Linked DNA regions of Homo sapiens: region 2 is linked to region 1. Evidence: fine-mapped expression QTL. Tissue or cell type: whole blood. Region 1 holds a variant in brackets; the other region holds the start of a gene. All regions are shown on one strand. Distances are from middle to middle.

What was found. PIP is the estimated chance that this variant, and not a neighbour inherited with it, causes the effect.
Region 2: it holds the start of PLA2G7, and the variant in region 1 is fine-mapped to the expression of PLA2G7 in whole blood (TOPMed, PIP above 0.99).

Annotation. Positions count from the first base shown.
Region 1 is chr6:46,771,471-46,774,154 of GRCh38, forward strand. No RefSeq gene overlaps it. Among named protein-coding and RNA genes, the nearest start is that of MEP1A, 21 kb to the right of the region's middle. The variant G/T (reference allele first, on the strand shown) is at 1,556.
Region 2 is chr6:46,733,861-46,736,544 of GRCh38, forward strand. It overlaps PLA2G7 (phospholipase A2 group VII), which reads right to left and starts at 1,515. Exons shown (of 12, transcript NM_005084.4): 1 at 1,320-1,515.

The DNA.
Region 1 (2,684 bases):
AATAAAACCTGAGTCGTTTTTATTTTGTTTCATTTTTCCTCAAAGATTTTAATGTTCTAGGGAAAAAAAAACCCCTCAGTGGAAGTAAAAGATGACTGACTAACGAAGGCATAATGCCTATGTTTTTGAAAAGTGCTGTGTCAGAGGGCAACAGAACATGGGGGTAAGAGCAGGGGCTTTTGCCTGAGACAGGTAGGTTCCAGCACTTCCCAGCTCAGTGGCCTTGAGAAAGTTGCTGACCTTTGTAAGCCTCAGTTTCTTCCTCTATAAGGCCCATTCATGCTGGCTTCATTGATACTTGTGAAGATTAAGCAATATGTGGCCAGAGAGAAAGAATTGAGAAAGCTTAATGAGAGACACCTTTCTTAGAACTCATCAAGACTAAAGGTTCCTCGAAACATAAGATTGACGGAGGGATAGTGAGATGGCAGGTGACTAGTTATGTGTGAAAGCAAGCAGTAAGAGCTAGTAGAAGGTAGGTATTAGGATGGTACTATAAAATTTTTAAAAATTTTTTCTGTGTATTTGAAAGTTTTCTAAATGTAATGATAGGGGGAAAATCTAGAGGCTTTTCTGTAGTAGCCAGTGGCCTTTGGAAATGTCTGTGGTGCCCACAAGCCCAAGAAATTAGAAACAATTCCCTCACATTCTGCTGTGTAGTCAGAGTTCAGGATCTATTTTAGGGTAGTCAGTTCAAGCAATTCTTTCTAAGCAGTTTGAACTTGAGGAGTTTGGTTAGTCTGCCATATCTTCAGTTTCCTCATTTGTAATTGGTGATAGGCATGCCTGCCTCTTAGGATTACACATGATGTACCTGGCACTCATGATTATAGTTATGACTCTTATTATCGGAGTCAAGAGGACCTTAAAGTTCATCTAACCAAAAACCCTTATTTTACAGATGGGCAATCAGATGCTCAGAGAAGAAAAGTGATTTCCCCAAGCTCACATAGCGGATTTGTTGTAGAATTAGTATTTGAATTTGGGTTTTCTGTGTTCTAGTCCAGTCATCTGTCCACCGTCCCACACTCCCTCCAGAGGATTGTTCCCCCCATCTTATAAAATCACATGTAACAACTATAGGGCAATCAGGCATCACCAATAATTCCTATGCAAAAGAGCAAATTTCACTAAGAGACAGCTCAGGAATTCTCTCCCCTGCTGGCTTTGTCACTCTGTTCTCAACATTTGGGTAGTCCTAGATTCCATCAGACCAAAGGACTTTGGGGCAGAAGCCGTGAGCTCTCCAGGAATCTTGGACTTGAGGGGTACTAGAATTTTTCTCTTTGGGCACTCTGGCATGGCTTGTGGGAACATTATAAGTACAGCAGCAGTCTCTTAGCAAACCATTTCTTGTCACATGTCATTTGACAAAACCAAGGCAAAGAAGAAGCTCCCTTCCAGGATATAACTGGAGTCCCAAGGCCAGCCTGTGGCCACACATGTTCCTCTTATTGGGCCGGGGAACTCTAAATTCTTGCCACATTTGCAGAAGAGAAATCAGAGACCTTCCACCCACTAGGAACCATGTGACTGTTTAGCAACTTTGCAGCAG[G/T]GGTTCAGAAATTAGAGAGAACAGCTTCTGCTCTCTAAGTTGGCTTCCTATTTCTCGCCTGGTCACACTCAAGACACTTCTCTGGCCTTATCTAACACCCATGCACATTGTGCTAGTCTCCAAGTAAATTTAGCTACAAAGATTTTTTTTTTAATGTTCAGTACTGGAATTCCCTCAGCCATGTGACTCTGAGCCTCCTTATCAGGTTCCATGAAACTTGATGACTGCAGATCCTGAAGAATCTAAGGTAGCAAAATACTTTCCACTGAGAAGTCAAGGTTGTGTGTGAAACAGTGAAACATGAGGTCTGGCCCCTATTGCTATTATAAAAATGTTAAGCTATGTAAGCTTTTGGGATGGCTTTTCTGCCATCAGAGCAATCTGTGGAACTGGTTGCCAAGGAGCCAGCAAAGGCTAGATGAGTTCCTTTACAAAACAGTTCTATTGAAGAATAATTTACATGCCATCAAATGCTCTCATTTTAAGTGTATAACTCAATGATGTTTAGTAGACATATGGTTGTGCAACCACCACCACAAACCAATTTTAGAAGATTTTCAACACCCTAAAGAGATCTCTCCTGCCCATTAGCAATCACTCCCAGCTGCCACTCACATGCTCTGGCAGTCACTAATCGTTTTGTCTCTATAGATTTGCCTTTTCTGGACATTTCATGCAAATGAACAGATGAGTTCTTAAGAGTAGGTGTCTCAATGACTCATCTATTCAGTCATATAACAAATATACATTAGGCACACTTAATGTGCCAAGCACTGTTGTAGGTGCCAGGTGCTCACCCTAAAGTGGACAGATAGGCTAGATCCCATGCAGCTGAGAAGGCAATAAGTTAACTCACAAAAACAGTAAAGGGGGATGGAATGTGAAGGGGAGGCCCAAAGATCTCAGGAGCCCTTACCTGGAGCTCATAATGTAGTCTGAAGAATTCAGACCAGAAGAATTCAGGTCTCTTGGAGGAGGTGGTGGTATCTGAACAGAAAACTAAAAGGGAGGCTGGGTTAAGCAGAAGAAGAGGAGGAGAGAGCACACACTAGGCCAAGGAGCTGCTTTAGGAAGGCCCAGACCGAAGAGAATTTATGCCAAGTTTGAGAGACCAAAGCAAGTTTGGCAA
Region 2 (2,684 bases), 38 kb before region 1:
TCCTACCCATATACCAGTCTCCCAGCTCAGCATTCTCATTTGGATCAAAAGTAATTTGTGCAAGCCTGATTTGTTAACACATCCCAAATCTGAATCCGTGTGCCTTTTAAAGGTGGCAAGCTGCCATTTATGAGCCATACGCACCTCTCCTTCCTCATCACCACTGCAGTAATCCCAAGAACCACAGGCATGAATAAAAGCCCGAACTTTTCGTTTTTGGTGACAGAAATTTCTCTTACAAGCTCCAGGAGATGATGAGGAAGACAGTGTTCTCTGTTTTCTGATTTTGCTTAATTTTTTAAAAATGAGCCTCTCCCTTGACTTGGTGACACAGCTGTGATCTTATCTGGCCGGCAGGGGGATGCTCCAGGTAGGACAAAGAGTGCTTTGTTTTGTTCTTACAGCAGCCACGCATAACTGGGCTCCAAAAACGCAATACTCCTCAAAGGGAGAGTGAGAGAGAGGGAGAGAGGGAGAAGGGTGTGTGAGAGAGAGAGCGGAGGGAGAGAGAGAGAGGAGGCAGAGTGAGAGGTGTGTAGTGGTGTGTGTGTGTGTGAGAGAGAGAGAGAGAGAGAGAGAGAGAGAGAGAGAGAGAGAGAGAGAGAGAGAGAGAGAGAGAGAGAGAGAGAGACGGAGAGAGAGATTGTCCCTGTAGGAGATCTACAGATAAGAAAACTCCGGGGCGGGCGCGGTGGCTCATGCCTGTAATCCCAGCATTTTGGGAGGCGGAGGCGGGCGAATCACGAGGTCAGGAGATCGAGACCATTGTGGCGAACACAGCGAAACCCCGTCTCTACTAAAAATTCAAAAAAATTAGCCGAGCGTGATACGGCACGCCAGCAGTCCCAGCTACTCGGGAAGTTGAGGCAGGAGAATTGCTTGAACCCGGGAGACAGAGGTTGCAGTGAGTCGAGATCGCGCCTCTGCACTCCAGCCTGGCGACAAAATGAGACTCCGCCTCAAAAGAAAGAAAGAAGGAACGAAAGAAAGAGAGAGAGAGAGAAAAAAAAGAAAAGAAAACTCCATGTGTTCCCTGCCTGTCCTGATTCTCCCCCCAGCTCTGAGCTCTTAGGGTTGCTTCCTTTCGGGAAAAGGTTTGGAAGAACTGGTGTCTAATACCGTCATCCTCTCCCTCTCCCCGCAAGGATCCTAGCGCTGTTTCCGAGGGCTGCAGGGACTGTGAGCCCAGGACCGGCCAGCAGAGCGGGTGCGACTCAGCGAGCCCACCCCGGCCGGTCGCCGCTCCGGGGTCCCGACCTCCAGCGCGGCGACCGTGCCCTTCCTCCCACTCCCGCCTCGCCCCCGGGGCCCCTCCTCACTCAGGCGCGGCGCGGAGCTGCTCGCGGGAACTGGGGTCCCTGGGCGCGTTCCACCGCGCACCAACGCGACCCAAGCGCTCCAAACCCGACTGCTTCTCGCCGACAGCACTGCGAGCCTCCGACCAGCCGCTGTCCCCCTGGCTGCGGGCCGAGCAGCTCTGGCAGGCGGCGGGCGGGTGGGCTGCGCGCGGGCTGTGTCCTGGGTCCGCCTAGCGCGGCCTTGTGGCCCCGACCCTCTCCTCCCCTGGTGATGCTGGAGGAGGTACCGGGGAGGAGCGTGTGTGGCCCCGGCCTCTCACTAGCAGCGGCGGCTCCCGACGCTAGCCTGCTCGAGCGCACCCAGCACCCTCCCCAAGACCATGGCCCGCACCTGGACCCGCGGTTAACTTAGCCCGCCGCGGAGAGAGCCAGGCAATGCCTGGGTGGTGTCGTGCTCACCAGCTCCTTTCCGCAGACCTGATGCCGATCAGATTTACTCCCTGCTGAATTCACCCCCCAGTCAGGCCGGTTTTCCTTGTTTCACCGTGTTCTCTGAATACACTGAATTACTCCGAGCATCTATAGTTGGCAATGCCCTGCGCATTTTCCGCACTCCGATACACTTTACACTGAACACCAATTCGGAAGTTGTGTGGACCGTGCTCCAGATTGGAAGGCCTGCCACTGTGCTGGTGTCATTTCTCCCTGGAAATGACAATGAAGGACAATCAGGAATAGCACTTAGGTCTGAGGAGAAATGGAGCTAGAAGGAGCCGTTTCATAGCTCAGTGTAACACAGAGTTATTTGGGGTTTAACTGAAACGCCTTCCTTCATCTTCCAATGTTTTCTCTTCAATCCACTTTCTAATAAATTAAAAACACACTCATTTAAAACTTCAGCTAGAAACTTAGGGAAAGTAGTTTGAAATTTATGTGTGGTGTTATTAAAATTTTATATTTTTAAATCGTGTTTTGGTTTTTGGTGAGGTGCCAGAACTGGAGATGAAATTTTGCTTATTTTGATTTTGAGTATTCTGCAGTAAGATGGCCTGAATTTTAGCTTGTTTCTCCCACTTATGAGTGGTGTGACCTTGGGGAAGTTCATCATCTCTGCTTCTCGGTCTCCTCATCCATAAAATCAAGAAAATCAAAATCAGTCAGTCAGAGGCAGTTTGTGAGCACGAAATGCAAATACATGTGAAATGCTTGGGACAGAGCTTGGCCTATGGGAAACATTCATTCAATATGTGTTATCTAATATTGATAGCTTAATGAAGCAGTGACTCATTTAAACCTAACAATAGATTTTATTTTTAATTTAAATGGAACTCTATCCGCCTAATGACATTGTCTTGTACTTCCTGGACTAACCCCCTGTAAAACAAA